Regions from separate parts of the Homo sapiens genome. Here region 1 is linked to region 2. The links come from fine-mapping of genetic effects on gene expression. A gene starts in region 2. The other region holds a variant in brackets. All regions are shown on one strand. Distances are from middle to middle.

What was found.
Region 1: its variant is fine-mapped to the expression of MAP4K3-DT in esophagus mucosa (GTEx, PIP 0.94).

The regions. Positions count from the first base shown.
Region 1 is chr2:39,487,431-39,497,139 of GRCh38, reverse strand. All of the region lies in intron 3 of MAP4K3-DT (MAP4K3 divergent transcript), which reads right to left. Among named protein-coding and RNA genes, the nearest start is that of MAP4K3-DT, 55 kb to the right of the region's middle. The variant G/A (reference allele first, on the strand shown) is at 5,761.
Region 2 is chr2:39,432,357-39,442,065 of GRCh38, reverse strand. MAP4K3-DT (MAP4K3 divergent transcript) reads right to left here and starts at 4,650. Exons shown (of 6, transcript NR_037875.1): 1 at 4,531-4,650. MAP4K3 (mitogen-activated protein kinase kinase kinase kinase 3) reads left to right here and starts at 4,781. Exons shown (of 34, transcript NM_003618.4): 1 at 4,781-5,174. The coding sequence starts at 5,079. RefSeq lists silencers at 4,528-4,747, 4,818-5,177 and an enhancer at 5,508-5,587.

The sequences.
Region 1 (9,709 bases), 55 kb before region 2:
CCCTGTAGATGAAATACTACAGAGTGTTTGCTATTTACAGGAAATTGGAGGTGGGGTGGTTACTGGAAAGTGGGTTGGCAGAGATTGGTGGTTATGTGATTTAATCCTGAAATAGACTGGTTATGAGAATCAATGTCTTCAAATTTCAAATACTGTCTTGCTTTTGCTTTTGTATATATATACACACATATATACATATAAATATATATACACACACACACACAAAAGCAAAAGCAAAACAGTTATTAGCTATCCTTCCTAGAGATAGCTAGCAAGGACAGCTAATCAACTCTTTCAACATTTCAAGATTAAAGGATGAGGATACCACCTGGGTTTTAATACGGAGATGGCTCAAGCCCTTTCCACTGCCATGTAAAAGATTTTTAGATCACATGTGTTGATCATTACAGTGATGAGATGGTATTAAAATGCTTGACAAATTGGTCTCCATGGCAGTGCTTGTAGTCCCAGCTACTCAGAGAGGCTGAGGCAGGAGGATAAAGTGAGCCCAGGAGTTCGAGTCCAGCCTGGGCAGCAAAGCGAGCTCCTGTCTCTAAAACAAAATACAGACTTGACAAACACCTACTGAAGGCAATATGATCATTACTTACAGAAAGGACAGGATCAGAGCTAGGAGAGTGAAGGACTAGATTTATGAAGCTTCAGTCCCTTCTTTACGGGCACTGAAGAGAAACAGTTCAAGTCCTCCAGTTGTCCCATAGGCTTTGTCATATAAGAATGGATAATTTGCTACAAGCTCGAAATGGCAAAACCAATTACCTAATGTTGCTACTGTACTGACTAATCATCTTACTCATGAAACTATCTACACCTTGCAGAGAACTTTAAGAAAACCACTGGGCATGGTGGGTCGTGCCTATAATCTCAGAATTTTGGAAGACCAAGGTGGGGGCATCCCTTGAAGCCAGGAGTTTGAGACCAGCCTAGGCAACACAGCAAGATACTGTCTCTACATAAAACAAAAAATAAGAAAAGTTAGCCAGGCATGGTGGCTATGCCTGTAGTCCTAGCTACTTGGGAGGCTGAGGCAGGAGGATCCTTGCAGTGAGCACTCCAGCCTGGGTGATGGAGCGAGACCCTGTCTCAAGAAAGAAAGAAAGAAGGGAAGAAAGGAAGAAAGGAAGGAAGGAAGGAAGAAAGGAAGAAAGGAAGGAAGGAAGAAGGAAGGAAGGAAGAAAAAGAAAGAAAGAAAGAAAGAAAGAAAGAAAGAAAGAAAGAAAGAAAGAAAGAAAGAAAAACCTTGCAGTATACATTTTCATAAGCCCAAAAGTTACTTCCTTCCATTTATTGCAAGGCTATAAGAACCCAAATGTCTGCCTGTTATGATTTTAACCAGCACTTTTCTACAAGTGAGTATGTTCAAGAACCCCTAAAAAGACTGTAATAATCAGATATCAAGCACCTATATGAGGTAGCAGGAGGAAGAAAGAGGCAGTACAAACAACAATCCACACATAATCCAGTAATGCAAGCTCTGAAATTCCAACACTTCATTTCAACTGCTTCCCCCAAAATTCCATACCATGTTCTTGCTTTTGGATAAAGTCAGTGACAAGAAACGAGATGGTCATACAGCAGCAGCAAAAATATAATCAGGAAATATAATGACTTTGTAATATCCCTGTGCGAAAGAAATAAACCTGAGTAGTGAGAGGAACATGGGTCTTGGATTAGGATATAGAACAATGTTTAAACCCTGGTTGGCCAGGTATAAGCTATGTAATAACCTTGGGCAATTCACCTAATTCCTCTGAGTCTTAATTTCCTCATTTCTTATATGTGGTAATTGTGCCTAATTGAGAAGATGCACAATAGAAATTCAATAGTAGCTCTAATTACCATGCAACAACCTTCCTGGTCCACTGTGTGGGTTTCTTTCAGGCTGTGAGTAAGTGGACATGGATTTCTGTAGCTAGTCTCTGCCAGAGGATATGAGTATTTCAAGAAGCAGGAAGGGCTGGAGGTGTGTGAAGGCTCCCCCGCTCCTGCACTTCATTTGTACACTCTCATCATCACTGGAGGAGTCTCCTGGCTGCAGTTGAGCCTTCGATGAGATGATTTGCATCACTCACATTCCAAGCTGGGTGGGGGAAGCCCAGACATTCTCGCTCTGCCCCTCAACCAGCTTGGTGCCAGATTTCCTCTCGCTTCACCCCCCCAGGAGGTCATCTAGGGAGCAGGCATCACACAGTAGCAACAGGCCTTGCGGATGATGACATCATAGGCTATTTTGCCCACTCTGTTTATCTCGCACTGAGAGGCAGGAGAGCACAGTAAGGAGCACAGGTTTTTTGGTTTGGTTTTGTGGGTTTTGTGGGGGTTTTTTGTTTTTTGTTTTTTTTTTTTTTTTTGAGATAGACTATCACTCTGTCACCCAGGCTGGAGTGCAGTGGCACGATCTCAGCTCACTGCAACCTCCACCTCCGGGATTCAGGTGATTCTCGTGCCTCAGCCTCCCAAGTAGCTGGGATTACAGGAGCACACCACCATGACTGGCTAATATTTGCATTTTTAATAGAAACAGGGTTTTGCCATATTGGCCAGGCTGGTCTCAAACTCCTGACCTCAAGTGATCCTCCTGCCTTGGCCTTGCAAAGTGCTGTGATTACAGGCGTGAGCCACTGCACCTGGCAAAGAGCACAGGTTTTGAAGTCAAACAGACCTATCTTCAAAGTATGTTTCTGTCCTGTGCCACATCTAAACCTTAATTCCCTAAGCTGTAAAAGATGATCAAATAGGCCAGGCACGGTGGCTCACACCTGTAATCCCAGCACTGTGGGAGGCCGAGGCGGGCAGATCACCTGAGGTCAGGAGTTCCAGACCAGCCTGGCCAACATGATGAAACCCCATCTCTATTAAAAATAAGAAAATTAGCCGGGCATGGTGACATATGCCTATAATCCCAGTTACTCCAGAGGTTGAGGCAGGAGAATCACTTGAACCCAAGAAGCGGAGGTTGCAGTGAGCCGAGATCATGCCACTGCACTTCAGCCTGGGTGACAAGACTGTCTGAAAAAAAAAAGGAAAATCAGGATTTCTAAGAGATATCTCTACTCTTACGTTCATTGCAGCATTATTCATGATAGCCAAGATATGAAAACAACCTAAATGTCCATCAACAGATGAATGGATGAAGAAAATATGGTATACATATACAACAGAATATTATGCAGCCTTCAAAACAAAAGGAAATCCTGTCATTTACAACATGAATGAACCTGAAGAACATTAAGCTAAGTAAACTAAGCGAGACACAGAAAAACAAATACTGTGTTGATTTCACTTATATGTAAAAACTAAAGTAGTCAAACTTAGAACAGCAGAGAGTGGAATGTTGGTTGCCATGAGCTGGAGGGATAGAGGAATGGGGAGATATTGGAAAAGGGTTACAGAGTTTCAGTTATCCAAATGAATGAATTCTGGAGATGTATTCTACAACGATGTGACTACAATTAGCAACACTATATTATATACTTGAAATTTGCTAAGAGGGTGGATCTTAAGTGTTCTCACCACCAAAAAATAAAAAAGAAGGGAAAGAAAGGAAGGAAGAAAGAGAGAGAGAACAAAAGAAAATGGTAACTATGTGAGGTGATGGATATGTATATGATATATATGCATATTATATATATATGATTTGATATGGATATATGCATATATATGCATAATTGAAATATGTACATATTTAAAGTGTACGACATGATTTGATATGCATATATATGCATATATATCCATATATATGCATGGATATGGATATGGATATATATGCATGGATATATATGCATATCAAATCATCATGTTGTACACTTTAAATATGTACAATTTTCAATTGTCAATTATATCTCAATATGGGAAAAAGTCTTGTCATGAAGGAGATGCTTAATAAATAGTAGTTAATGTTATTATCTTTGATTGATTTGTCTTTGAATAAATTTCTGTGGCCTAAATGAGGAAGCATATTCAAGGCATATATCCAAATATTTGTAAGAGTAGAGGAATGTTCTTAATCCAAATTATATGCACCAGTATTGCTCACTTGAGTGGAAGGAAATTATAGAATGGAGTATTAACTTCCTAATGACTAGACAAAATTAGTTGAGTAAATTACCCAATCAGTTCAGGAGAAGAAAATAAAAACCTGATTCAAAGGGTTTTTTTCCCCTCTGTGGGTTCATTTTATTGCTGCAACCCTCTAATTTGTTTTAGTTATAAAGACATGGCCATTTCATTTTCAGTTTCACCCAGGAACTAGAACTATATTTTGAAATAGGGACAACTGGATTTAGAAAATCACTTTTGTACAACTAGAACTCATTTACAGCTAGTTATTCAAATATCCAGTGACAGCATAATAAAAATTTAGGGCCTTCTTTTAATTAAACACTCCAGTTTACAATTCCCTGGAAGTAGTAACACATATTTGGAAACTGCTCTCTTTCGTGTTTTTAAAATAGCATCTAACATTAAGACAGTAATTTATTAAGAAATAACTTGCTGATCTGAAAGTGTTGATGTGATTTCAAAATGTCTTTAGAATGCATCCAACTCGATGAGACTTATATGCATGGATTTGGAGAACAAGGAGCTTATCATAGGACTTTCATAGCCCTCTCAAAATGGCAAATGAAGATAAACTGCAGAAATAGGGACTGCATGTTGCAATCAAAAGGGAACCTGCCCACAGACTGAAACAAACTTGGAAAACAAATGAACGGAAGATTAAACAGTGAAGTCTAAGTACTATCACTTCTTCCCCTATGATTAAAGCCTGACAGGCACCATGAGTCAAACTGTAAATATATACTAGTTATCATAGACCTCACTGGGTTTATGCGTCAGTAAACCACAGCTGCCTCTAATTTACCATTGAAACATGTTTTAGGGAAATGAAACTAGCCACCACCTCCTTTCATGCATGTGATATACTATTCATAACCAAGCCCTAATGACAGAAGAGAGCATTCTTAAAATAGTCTAATGGCTTTTTTGTATTCAACAATACAATCCCCCTATATTTTTTATACCTAACTCACCACATATTCAAGAATTTTCCATCATGTGCTTAACTTTAAATTTTTAAATGGTTTTCTTCACCTGAGCTGGCAGCTTTACTATTGCACTAGTCCAAACATATAGATGGGAGCGTCCTTAAATATGCAGCAAGACACACGTGATATAAATAGGAGGAATCATAGTATAGGACCACCTAATAATAATAAAGCCAATGTTTACTTAGTGCTTACTATTTACCTAACATTGTGCTAAGCACTTTTGAAGAATTATTTTGTTTAATCAGCAATTCCAACAAGACAAAATTCCAGTGTCCCAGATGATAAGACTAGCGAAACTTAAAAATCCTAATGTTAAAAAATTAAACCGCTAAGTGAAAATTAGTTTTTCATGGGTGATTTCTTGGCAATTTATAAAATTTAAGTTTTCCTAAAATTAACTGTAAACTGATACATATTAATCATACATAGCAAATGTCTACAGTCAAATTTTAAGCTATTTCTCTGCTTTATTAGCCATTTATATCAGCTTTTATACGAAACTTCCTTTTCATAGGTGCAATTGAAGACAAAGGATCAAAGCTTTTTCACTGGGCACGGTGGCTCATGCCTGTAATCCCAGCACTTTGGGAGGCCGAGGCGGGCAGATCACGAGGTCAGGAGATCGAGGCCATCCTGGCTAACATGGTGAAACCCTGTCTCTACTAAAAATACAAAAAATTAGCCAGGC[G/A]TGGTGGTGCACACCTGTAGTCCCAGCCACTCAGGAGGCTGAGGCAGGAGAATGGCGTGAACCCAGGAGGCAGAGGTTGCAGTAAGCCAAGATCACTGAACTCCAGCCTGGAGGACAGAGCATGAGACTGTCTCAAAAAAAGAAAAAAAAAAAGTTTTTTGTACTTTAAGCTAACTTTCATGAAACTATCCTATCATCAGAAACCCACTGCCAGTGGGCACAGTGGCTCACGCCTGTAATCCCAGCACTTTGGGAGGCTGAGGCAGGTAGTTCACTTGAGGTCAGGAGTTCAAGACTAGCCTGGCCAACATGGTGAAACCCCATCTCTACCAAAAATAAAAAAATTAGCCAGACGTGGTGGTGCGTGCCTGCAATCCCAGCTACTCGGGAGGCTGAGGCAGGAGAATCACTTGAACCTGGGTGGCAGAGGTTGCGGTGAGCTGAGATTGTGCCACTGCACTCCAGCCTGGATGACAGAGTAAGACTCCATCTCGAAAAGAAAAAAAGAAACCCCACTGCCACCTCTGAAAGATCTTCGGTGATTTGGGCCATTCATTCATTCCTCAGACTTAACCACCAACTGCACACCACACCCTGGGGATACGAATAAGACATGAACTCCACCTTCAAAACACATTCAGCCTGCTGAGAGAGATATAAACAAACCACAGCAAATATAATGCACAATATCATATAACAGAGGTAGAGAGAATGGAGGTCAAAAGGAGAAAGTAATTGAAAAAAAGGCAATTTTTGGAAGGCTTCACAGAAGCAGTGACACTAAAGGTAGCATCTTTTTTTTTTTTTTTTTTTTTTTTTGTGAGGCAGCGTTTCACTCTCTTGCCCAGGCTGGAGTGCAGTGACCCAATCTCAGCTCACTGCAACCTCCGCCTCCCAGGTTCAAACAATTCTCCTGTCTCAGCCTCCTAAGTAGCTGGGACTACAGGTGCACGCCACCATGCCAGCTAATTTTTGTATTTTTAGTAGAGATAGGGTTTTACCATATTGGTCAAGCTGGTCTCGAATTCCTGATCTCAGGTGATCCACCCACCTTGGCCTCCCAAAGTGCTGGGATTACAGGCATGAGCCACCTCGCCCAGCCTAAAGCTAGCATCTTAAATGTAGATGAAAATCTGTGATGTTCAGTATGTTCACTCTACTTTTTTTTTCAAAAGATGAATTACCTTTTCATTAATGTTTCCCTTTTTTTTTTTTTTTTGAGCTGGAGTCTTGCTCTGTTGCCCAAGCTGGCGTACAATGGCGTGATCTCAGCTCACCGCAACCTCCGCCTCCCATGTTCACGTGATTCTCCTGCCTCAGTCTCCCAAGTGGCTGGGATTACAGGTGTGCACCACCACACCCAGCTAATTTTTGTACCTTTAGTAGAGACAGGGTTTCACCATGTTGGTCAGGCTGGTCTCAAACTCTTGACCTCAAGTGATCCTCCTGCCTCAGCCTCCCAAAGTGCTGGGATTACAGACATGAGCCACCATGCCCAGCCAAAAGATGAACTACCTTTTTAAAAAAGCATAGGATTGTCGCCAGGCGGAGTGGCTCATGCCTGTAATACCAGCATTTTGCGAGGCTGAGGCGGACGGATGACAAGGTCAGGACATTGAAACCATCCTGGCTAACACCGTGAAACCCTGCCTCTAGTAAAAATACAAAAAATTAGCCGGGCATGTGGCGGGCGCCTACAGTCCCAGCTATTCGGGAGGCTGAGGCAGGAGAATGGTGTGAACCCCGGAGGCAGAGCTTGCAGTGAGCCGAGATGGCGCCACTGCACTCCAGCCTTGGCGACAGTGCGAGACTCCGTCTCAAAAAGAAAAAAAAAGGCATAGGATTATGTATCTAATTTACCTACTATTCCATTACTATTTTACATCCTATTTCTGAATTTCTGTGTCTTCCGCCACTTATCTTGACTTAATTTTTTTCTTTTAAGTAACTAGTCATATTGTTGCACTATCCACATAAAAATTACTTCCAAAGACTTGTGATAGAACCCAGTGATGTCACACCTAGATATATAACTCTCACAAGGAGACACATACAAAAACATTTATCATGCATTGTTTGTAAGGGAAAAATAATGGAAACAATTTAAAGATCTATCAACAAAAGAATGAATAAACTGTGGTCTTTTTATACAATGAAATACTATCTAGCACTTTAAATAAACTAGAAGATGTGTATTGGCCTGACGCAGTGGCTCACACCTGTAATCCCAGCACTTTGGGAGGCTGAGGAGGGCGGATCACTTGAGACCAGAAGTTCAAGACCAGCCTGGCCAACATGGCAAAACCCATCTTTACTAAAAATACAAAAATTAGCAGAGCGTGGTGGCAAGCGCCTGTAATCCAGCTACTCGGGAGGCTGAGGCAGGAGAATCGCTTCAACCTGGGAGGCAGAGGCTGCAGTGAGCCAAGATCGTGCCACTGCACTCCAGCCTGAGAGACAGAGTGAGAATCCATCTCAAAAAAAAAAGAAAAAAAAAAAAAAGATGTGTATTAGGGGCCAACCATGGTGGCTCACACCTGAAATCCCAGCACTTTGGGAGGCTGAGACAGGTGGCTCACTTGAGCTAAGGAGGTCATGACTAGTCTGGGCAACATGTGAAACCCTGTTTCTACAAAAAATACAAAAATTAGCTAGGCATGGCGGCGTGTGCCCGTAGGCCCAGCTACTTGCAGGGCTGAGGCAGGAAGATTGCTTCAGCCCAGGAGGTCAAGGCTTCAGTGAGTCATGATCACACCATTGCACTCCAGCCTGGTGAACAGAGTGAGACTGTTTAGAAAAAAAAAAAAAAGATGAGTATTAATACATGTTGAGTGAGAGATTAAGAAGAAAGCGCATAATATATCATTTAATGATGAAAAACTTGCAAATCAACTTTATGTCTTATGGATACATATATAGTATAAATATAAAAAATAGCTGGGTGTGGTGGTGTGTGCCTATAGACCCAGCTACTTGGGAGGCTGAGGCGGGAGGATTGCTTGAGCCCACTAGTTCTGGGCATCATATAGTGACCTCCCAGGAGCAGAGGGCTACCTGGTTGCCTAAGGAAAGGTGAACCCACCTGTGTGGGAAGCAGAGCAGGTCAAAACTCCTGTGCTGATCATAGTGGATTGCACCTGTGAATAGGCACTGCCCTTCACCCTGGGCAACACAGGAAGACTCCAGCTCTTATTAAAAAAAATTTTAAATAATATAAAAATACACAGAGGAATTAAAACTCTAAATTCAGGGTAGTTGTCACCCTGCAGATCACAAGAGAGGAATGAGATAGATTGGTTTCAGGGGTTTTAACTACATCTATATGATTTTAACTTTGTCAGCACTTCTGGTGGCTTGTTGAGGAAAAAAAGGTTTTAACTTGGAAGAAACAGAGGAAAGGGGAAAAAAGGGAGGGAGGAAGAGGGCAAAAGGGGGAGGGAGGGAAAAAGGGAGATCTGAAGCAAATATGGCAAAATTTTATTACATGAAATACTATCTAGCACTTAGGGCTGGATTGTAGATAGATGATTTTTTGTCATATTATTTTGTATGCTTTTCTGTCTGTTTGAAATATTCTATTGTAAATAGATGTGCTAATCTTTATAATAATAATTCATGGTATTATTCACCAAATTTAACAGCCTAACAAAAGTTTAGAAGTAAAAAATTAGCAAGTGGCACATATTTTCCAGTTCTACTAGTAAAGAAACTTGTTTGCATCTGGGGAAGATAATATTTGCGGTGTAACTTCCCCACTCCCTTTCCAGCACATCCTTAAAGGACTCAAATGGAATGTCGTCCTATGACAAAGAAAAGTGCTTGTGCATATTAACTCCTCTGCTGCTGAACCAATTTGTGACAGGATGAAAGCGCTACTAGGAAACAAAGTGAAGAAGGATGGACACTCTATTCAGTATTTATAAATTTCTAGGTTTTTCCTTTTCAAGCC
Region 2 (9,709 bases):
AAAAGAAAAAAGAACACTCAAAATAATAATAATTAATATTTTGTGGGGTTACTATAGTGCCAGGCACTCCTTTCCCTGTATTTTCTTTTTGATTAATCAAAACAGCTATAGTTTTAAATAACTTCCCAAGGTTTTTCAGTCAGGGAACAGAGATAAGATTTAAACCTAGGTAGCCTGGTTCAGAGCTGTACTAGGTAAGGCTGTATAACCTTTTGGAAGTCTCTGCAGCTTAAACATATGATAACCCACCTGAAAACCAGCTCCTCACAAGCCAGTTTCTGACTTTTTAAAAAAAGTATAAATTTTTCTTAAGCATGTTTGAATTTTGTAAGTAAATTTTTCTAGCTGGTCTGTAGTAATCATTTCAAAACATATACATATATCAAAACATCACATTGTACACTGTAAAGACATTCAATTTTTATTTGCCCATTATGCCTCAATTTAAAGCTGGGGAGAAATGAAATACATAAATAATTTTTTTTTAATGATAGAATCTCACTCTGTCACTCAGGCTGGAGTGCAGTGGTGCAATCTCAGCTTACTGCAACCTCCTCCTCCCAGGTTCAAGCGATTCTCATGCCTCAGCCTCCGGAATAGCTAGGATTACAGGCACGTGGTACCACTCCCGGCTAAGTTTTGTATTTTTTTTAGTGGAGACAGGGTTTCACCATGTTGGTCAGGCTGGTCTCAAACTCCTGACCCCAGGTGATCCACCCGCCTCGGCCTCCCAAAGTGCTGGGATTAGAGGTGTGAGCCACAGCGCCTGGCCATAAATAAAAATTTTTTAATTAAAAAAAGAAACCTGATTTTTTTAGCTCCATTGCCACCATCTCCCTCTGTCTTCAGAATTTAAGCACAATTGTCTGTTGTATGTGCCATATTATTTCACATACATGCTCTCTGTGTGATTTTCCTCCCCTGGTGGATGACCTGCTTCTGGCATTTTTTTGAGCTAAGGCTTGCTCAGTATCCTGTTTCCAGAGCAGCTAATGTACTGAAAATGTGAGTGGTGGTTATGTTATATGAGGAGGGCTGAGGTTAATAGGCCAAAGAAGGGGCTCCAGTGAGTTGTCAGACAAGAGGTCGAGGATGAAATTGGGAGCCTGTGCAGGGGATCAAGGGGTTCCTAAGCCAGAAACCCATGGGGGATGGGGCAATAGAAGGATGGCCTGGACATGCTGGCAGGTGGGGACTGCTGCCTATCTTGGCCTTCTTGTGTTCCTTGCTGTGTGATGCTTAAACGGGTAGGTGCTTCAAGGCGCTAAGCAGCCAGCCTGTCATGCACCACTTTCCCTTGTCTGCCTATGCATTTTTCAAGGTTCAGCTTTAGGGTTATTCCTTTTTTTTTTTTTTTTTTTTTTTTTGAGACGGACGCTTCCTCTGTTGCCCAGGCTGGAGTGCAATGGTGCAGTCTCAGCTCACTGCAACCTCCACCTCCCGGCTCAAGTGATTCTCCTGCCTCAGCCTCCCGAGTAGCTGTGATTACAGGGGACGTGCCACCGCGCCCAGCTAATTTTTGTATTTTTAGTAGAGATGGGGTTTCACCATGTTGGCCAGGCTGGTCTTGAACTCCTGACCTCAGGTGATCCACCCGCCTCGGCCTCCCAAAGTGTTGGGATTACAGGCATGAGCCACTGCGCCCAGCCAAGGGGTCATTCCTAAATCTTCCTCCCGTCTGCATTAATGTCCCTTCTCTGTGCTTCTCACACTATTTATGAGACTGTCAACTCCTTGAGGGAAGGCATTGTGGCTTTTCTTTTCTGTATTCAATACCACCAGAATCTAATAATCATTGCCTCTAAATACATTACAGGGAGGTAGAGGTTGGCTTACCATAAGAGAAATTTTTTACAGTATATTGTATATAAGCAGAGTATAGACTAGTGGCTAAGAATCTAGCCTTGGTGTCATACTGCCTTTGTTCAAATTTCAGCCTTCTGTGTTACCTTGAGCAGTTTAATCTGTCTGTGCCTCATAAAATGGAGATAATATTACCTATGTCATTAGGTTGTTGTGCGAATTAAATGAAATAACACATGAAAAATACTTGGCTCCATTCCTGGTATCTTGTAAGCACTTAGCAATGTTAGAAATTACTACTTTTCTCCTAGTTATTATGATCATTTACTAGCACTGTATCACAACGAGGTGGGTTGTTTTGGGAAGCAATGAGTCACCTTTTATTGAAAGTATTCAAGCAGCAGCAAATCCAGCAGAGATGCTGTAGAAGCAGTTCCTGAGTTAAAAAGATTAGATGACTTCTAAGAATGCTTCTAATCATAGAAGAGGGAAGCTCTTTCTCTGATTCTAGGAAAGTGTGATCATTAGTGTTACTTCTAGCAAAACTGAGGATTGTTAGAACAGGGGGAAAAGGCACTGGAATTGGCCACATGCATATATTACAAAAAACAAAATATTTTCTTTGTGAGCAGTTGTTTTACTTATGTTGTAACCCACATGGCAAATCAGGCCCTTACATGGAAATTCATCTCTTCTCAAAAGGACTAGCTTGGCCCTGCCAAAATGGAACAGACAAAACTTTAAAGACTGTTCTAGCCCTACTGAAATGTCTTTTCCTTTTGAAAGCAGTCTATTAGTGATGCAAATGCAAAGTTATTTGGACAGACGATAATCTCAGCAAACAAAACACTGAAGTCATTAGAACTTTCTTGTGCAGCTTTCAGTCCTGAGAATTTGGCTTTCTGGCACTAAAAAGGCAGAGGCCGGGTGCAGTGGCTCATGCCTGTAATCCCACCACTTCAGGAGGCCGAGGCAGGCGGATCATCTGAGGTCGGGAGTTCAAGAGCAGCCTGACCAACAAGGAGAAATCCCATCTCTACTAAAAATACAAAAATTAGCTGGGTGTGGTGTTGCATGCCTGTGATCCCAGCTACTTGGGAGGCTGAGGCAGGAGAATCGCTAAGAACCCGGGAGGCAGAGGTTTCAGTGAGCTGAGATTGCACCCTTGCACTCAAGCCTGGACAACTAGAGCGAAACTCCTTCTCAAAAAAAAAAAAAAAAAAAAGGCAGAGGAAAAGAGCAGACCTGGCTTCCATTTGGGATAATTTGTCAGGTCTGCTTATCTGAATCCTTGGCTAATTATTCTTGCGCTTGGCCTAAACATGCCAAACAATTCTCCAAATGTGGACAAACTGAAGGAAGGCCTGTAATCTGGGTCCTGGGCAAGTACCTTAAACAAGCAAAAGCAAGACCTTTGGCTATGGAATAACATTTATAGTCAGGAGTTTCTCAAGATACCAGAGCCTGAAGGTAGATCCATCGAGAAGATATTCAATGATATGCACTCCTAAGGCAATAATTTAAGTGATACTTTCATATTACTGATGCTTTAAAATTTAATAATTAAAAATTACACAACTGAAAGGCTACTTATATAGGTGAAGAGATAACCATTTTCAAACATCAATTTAGTCAACAGATACTCAAAGTAAACAATTTGAGAATTTAGTACATATGCAATTTTCCTATGAGCAAAAGGATTCAAAAGATTTTTTGAAAAAGTATGAAGCAGTTAACTCTAAGTAGTTTGCTCTACTATTAATTTATTATACTTATCCTTAACAGGTTTGATGAGACCTAGTTTCTCAGGAGCCACGAGGTATTAGGGAATATTAGTGGTTAGAAGGTGTGGTGCCTAAGGGGATTAGGAAAGCATTTCTGAAGCAAAACTCCAACGTGGTATTGCCAAAGTGGCCATCACCTAATTGATTAAAGCTCCTGCAAATGTCTATTGGGAAGTTCAATGAGAACAGAAAAATAACCTTCCATTACCCTCAAGCTTTCTTGGGCAAGTATTAACAATCGGAGCTGGAGTCCACATAGCTCAGATGTAAGACGCGCAATCTGGGTCTTAAGCAGGGTGGGGTTTTTGGGTAGGTAAGGTCACAGCTAAAGAGCTTCCGGATCGTCACGTGTTTATATTTCAGGTGCGGTAATAGATCTAGTCCACTCTCCACCCCTTCTTTACAGGGTTGCTTGACAGCCTGCGCAGTCCCCGCCCGTCTTTGATAATCCAACCCTCTTCGAAGAGGGAGGTCAATCACTGCTTTAGTTCTGCGCTCTGCCTGCCTCCCACGCGGGATGGTGGGCAGCTGTTCCGCGTGTTTTCCTCCCGGAGCTTTCACGCTCTGCCCACTGCACACACCTCCCTCGCGGCCCTCCTGGCCTGCCCTCCTTTGCACCCTGGCAGGCCAACTCCAAGGGTCCGAGTGTCGGTGACAGGGGCAAGCAAGCACAGCTCACTTTTCCTGGGGGTTTTCCTCACGGTGTGTTTAGTGACCCCTCCCCGCAATCCCAGAAAGGCTGCAGCACTCCATGGTATCCTACATGTAGCTGCTTCTAAAATAATAAAGGCTGGGACATTGGCTGTCTTGGATATTACCACTATGCTACCTGCTTGGAACTGGGACCAGATAGACCAAGGTCCAACTTTGTCGTTAGGGGAATCAGAAACGAAAAGAAGCCACTTTCTGCTAGTCCTAACCCCGGTCCCTGGGCCAGGCAAACCTTTTCAAGCGTCCGGCGGCAGCGGCCGGGCGCGGGTCCGCAGAAAAGCCGAGGCGTTTCGGGTCCCAAGCTGTTCCGCCGCCGGCCCCGGCCTGGCAGGCGCGCGGAGCCGGAACGCGCAAGGGGTCGGGTGCGCGCCAGGCCTGGCGCGCTCCCTCCGGGATCGCGGCTGCGCAGTCGGGCGGGAGTCGGGAAAAGGGGAGGAGGTTGGAGGAGCCGGAGTAAGGGGAGGGGGAGGAGCGGCGAAAGCGGAAGCCATGTTGGAGTTTCACCCCGAGCGAGGGGCTGCGAGGGTTCTCCTCTCCTTGTGGGTGTGACCAGGTTCGGCGCGGCGGCGGGCCGCGGGGGGCGGGGACGATTGGCCGCTTGTCGTCGTCCGCAGCGGCGTGAGGGGAGCGGCGGCGGCGGCGGCGGCCGCAGCGTGGAGCCGGGTGATTGTGACCGCCGGGGGAGCCGGGAGCCGGCCGCGGCGCCCTCTCTCCGTGTGGCCCCCTGAGCGGCCCCCCTCCCCTGCCCGGGAGGGAGGCGGGGGGCACCTGGGGCCCGCCATGAACCCCGGCTTCGATTTGTCCCGCCGGAACCCGCAGGAGGACTTCGAGCTGATTCAGCGCATCGGCAGCGGCACCTACGGCGACGTCTACAAGGTAAAGGCAGGGGCCGCGCGCCGCCGAGGCCGTGGGATCCCGACCCGCAGCCAAGCCTGGGCGTCCGAGCCCTTGCCGCCTGTCCTCGGGAGACGCTGGCGCCAGGGAGCAGTCGGGGAGGAGGAGCTGCGGACGCCAAGGGCTCTGCTGCCTTGGTGAACAAAGGGCCGAATGTTTAACCCCGAGACCTCCCCAGCCCTTACCTGAGCCCCCCCGGTGGACATGATTTTTGCCACCTCCCTTCTTGCGCGCATTTCCAGGGAAGGGCAGAACGAGAGCAGGCCACACTGCTCATCCATAGTGCAGAGAAGGTCTGGGCGTTTGTTGCGTTGGCAGGGTCAGCGCGACGAACCGGACAGCAGGGGTCTGGTGTTGTCAAACCTGCCTGCTTCACGCCAACCTGGGGTCGTCCGCTCTAGGTTGGGAGCTGCTGCCCACCAGGCCTCGGTGGTAGTTATTATACTATGCTGAGCGACCTCCATCTTCCATCGACAGCTCTCAGCCTTTAGCGCCTTATTCATCCCCCTGTCAGTTTCTTTTAATTTTCCAGAGTAATGACTTTTTTTTTTTTTTGGAAAGAGCAACTTTGTTTTCTCTAAGTCGAATTGGACTGCGATGCCATTTAAACTTGTTTTTTAAAAAGTGACTTGAATACTTAGGGAAGGTACTGGTTTGACAAGGTTAGAATTCAAAGTCCAGTAGCGGTACAGCATTCCTGTTGTAGAGGGACCACTTCTAAATGTGGGAAGATAAATCACTCTTCCCTGGCCAACTCAACTCTTGGCCTCACAGTTACTGCCAAGAAGAGAGGAGGTTGTTGCCAAATGTGGCAGCAGTCTTGATTTAGTTGTGTATCTTCTTACTGGTAACTGAAGTTGAACTCCTCCAGTTTCACATAACACCTGAGGATGCACAAAGAAACTTAATTTTGCATTGGAAAGTTCAGTCTTAACTTTATTTTGCCCATGTTTAAGCAGGTTTTTACTCTTCAGTGTAATGCCTGTGGTAACTTACATATTTAATACAGTGCAGCCAGTGTTCTGCTTTAGTCTGATTTTCTGGATGATCTACTTTTCACCATCGTGGATCTCATCACTTTTCCTACTATGCAATATAGATATATTGAGCCCACCTACAATGTATGAGATACTTGGCAAGTAAGCACTTTGGGTTGTAGCAGTAAACGATAGACTTGGTTCCAAATCTTCCTAAGTGTTTCTATTTTTTTGGACAAGGACAGTATTAAATAGCCATTTAAATAATTATTGCCGTTTAATTTTGTGATGCAGAAAAGAGTATTAGGATCAGGGTTATGAGAGCATGTAATAGGAGGACCTGATCCTGTTTAGGGTATCAGACGCTCATCGCCTTTCAGCTGAGATCTCAGAGATGATTAGGCGTTGCTTAGGGTACTGGGGAGAGGGGATTACGCCAGATAGGGGAGCATGATATGTGAAGGCTCTGAGGCCCGATGTGAAAGAAGGCCTGTATAGCCTGAGCAGCCAGAGCGGGAGGGTGGCCCTAGATCTTGCAGGCCTCTTAGTTCTCATTAGGAGATCGGACTTGTTTAGGACAATGGGGAACTATTGCAGGCTTTTAAGCAGAGGAGTGACATTAGATTTAGGTTTTTAAAAGAGCTCCCTACTACAGCATGAAGAGTGGAATGGAGCAGTTGGGAGGCCACTGTGATAGTCTAGGTAAGAATAATGGTGTTAAGGAATATGGTGATGACTGTGAAAGTAGAAGTGGATGGATGCAAGTCACTTATGACTGGTTGGGGGAGTTCGCTTATATTGCGATGAAAAGTTAACTAAAACTCGATGAATGTATACGTTTTAGGTGGCAGGGTATACAGTGAATTTTTTTACAGGACTAATTGGCTGTGTACTTGCTATATTAAAAAGAACAGTTAGTAGTTAAGCCACATGATTAAAAAGCAAAAAAAAATTAGGGCCTGTAATTTCCTAAGTGTAATAGAGGTATACTAAGTTGGTTAATCTTGTCATTCGTTTAAAATAATGATAATACTAGCTGATGTTTATGGAATGCTTGTTACTTGCCAGGCACTATAAGATTTTTCTAATTAATCCTAACAGCAACCCTGTGAGATAGGTGCTATTGTTAACTCCATTTTGCAGTTGAATAAACTGAGGCACAAGGAGATTAACTTGCCAAAGTTGGTAGGTGGCAAAGCCAAAATTTGAACCAATTAGGGACTGTATTCTTAACCAATTGGCAGTGCTGCCTCTCTAAAGATAGGAGATGGGCAGATAATGTATTACATTTCCAGTGGAGAAACTGAGGCACACATTTAGTTTAGCATTTGAGTTGTAGCCACACTCTGAGTCAGTGTAGATCTTTAAGTAGTAGTTGGAATACCTAATTCCTGCTGTGCCACAAGGTCTCACTGTTTATGTAGTCTGCCAAGTGGATATCAGATAATAGATGCTTGGTCCCTGCCTGCCAGACTCTTCCAATACCAGTGACCAAAGCAGAGAAACTTCATGTGGTTCTTGACATCATGTACCCCTGCCTGCCAAACTCTTGTTTATGTTTTTGTCTATAATCAAGTTTATTCTATAAAGTTACATTTTTTTGTTATTTGTTTTGCTGTTTTAGTTTTTTCTTATTTATACAAATTAATTGTGCTAGAGAGAAGTACATTTTGTTTTCAAAAGCCAATATATATAATTTGTTCCTTAATTTGTCAGCATTTACGTGCTAAAAATGGAATGATTGGATTAAATAAATAAGAGATCCGATTATAGTCATTCTTGGAAGGTTGGTGGAGATTTTTATTTTGAAAATGTTTTCCTACTCAATGTAATAACATATTTATTGTACTTAAGGTGGCGTGGTTTAGTTCCAAAGCACTGAACAAGGATGTGGACAATCTGGGATTTATTAGCTATGTGACCTTGTGAAATCAACCTCTCAGAGCTGTTTTGTTGTGGAGATATTATTACCATCATATGCCCTTCTTCTTTTGGTATTGACTAAATGACTCAAATTTTACTTAGTAAGTAAGTTATCTTTATTTTTTTCAGGCCAATGCATATATACATTTTATCTGCACTGTCTAAAGTCGTATCTTGTAAGTGTCGTGTAACTCTGCAGGCTTTATCTGTCATGAAGTGCCTGCAGCTTGGGTTACCTAGGGACCTAGGAGCTGGCAACTGAAGCTCTTTAGTTGGGCCTCAGGAGGCCCATGGAGTGCTCTGAAATTAATAGGCTTAATGTTGTATGTATTTGTGTTTTTCTGTGGAGATGGGTTATAGCATTCATTGCATTCTTAAAGAGCTTCATGATCCAAAAAAATGAAAAAATGATCCATAGGTTTGCCATTCAAAAAAGTTTTCTTGGAGAAATTAGGTAGTTATAATAGATCATAATATGATTTTCACATGCATTGTGCCATCTTTTGTCAGGCAGTTTTCCAGTTTAATTTTTATTATTCCTACCCTTTAAGTCTTGATGTCCTTATGTTTTTCTAGATTTTTTGCTAGAAAGAAGCAGGAGATAGTAAAGCTGGAGATGGGATAAGGCAAAAGAAGTTTTGAAAGAATAGTCTCAATATGGTTTCTGAGGAAGTATCTTACCTAGTCTTATGGTTTTAGTCTGGTCCCTGTGAATGATTCCTAGCCTGTGTATCCAAGACTGGATACACAAAGACTCCAGGCTGTAAGCCTTAGAGTCATCTTTAGTGACTTCTGGACTGGGCTTCTTAGGCATTAGCTAAATTCTGTACACAGGCATTTTCCAAAGTGTGGTTGGGGTGCTTCAGGAAAAGCCATACCATGAGTAGGTTAAAGACTGAGAAGTCCTATGGTAAAGAAACCTGGTAAACTTTGCTTAACCTAGCAAACTCCAAACTTACTTGACTATTAGATTCTTTTTCTCTGTAATACATATTGCTTGTCCTTAGTACTAGTGTTTTGTAGAACATGCTTTGGAAACGTTGATATTGATTTTTTTTCACCTTTGTGTGTTTGGAAGCCATTCCCTCTGAAGCACGGGCTGCCGTGTTGTTAAGCTTCCAGGTAGGATTCACATCGTAGTCTGTGTAAATAGATTTAAAGTGTCTGTGAAAGCTGGCAGGAAAAAAGGTGAGGATTGGGCAGTAAAATAAGGAAACCAATTTATATGCATTTAGATAATTACGTGTTAGTTTATTTGTAATTATGCATCTTTCAAGGTGTTCTATTTAATATCATCATAGACTAATTCTTCCATTATAATCAGCATTTGTGAGAACCTTTCTGGAAAACTCAATTCTTAAACCTAACGGATAAGGAATATGAAGACCTTAAGCATTTAGAAAAGAACATTTGAAGGAAGCTCAAACATTGTTATTTGGAGTTATGCTCACTTCTATTTACTTCCATTTAGGATAGACTCTAATAGACTCTAGAGAGACCAGAAGAAATGGCCCTAAACTTCAGAAAGATCATTTGAAGTTGAATAAGGTAGAATTTCCCATCATCAGTTGCTATTTGAGATGAAAAGTGACAATGAAACAGGTAGCGAGGTAATTT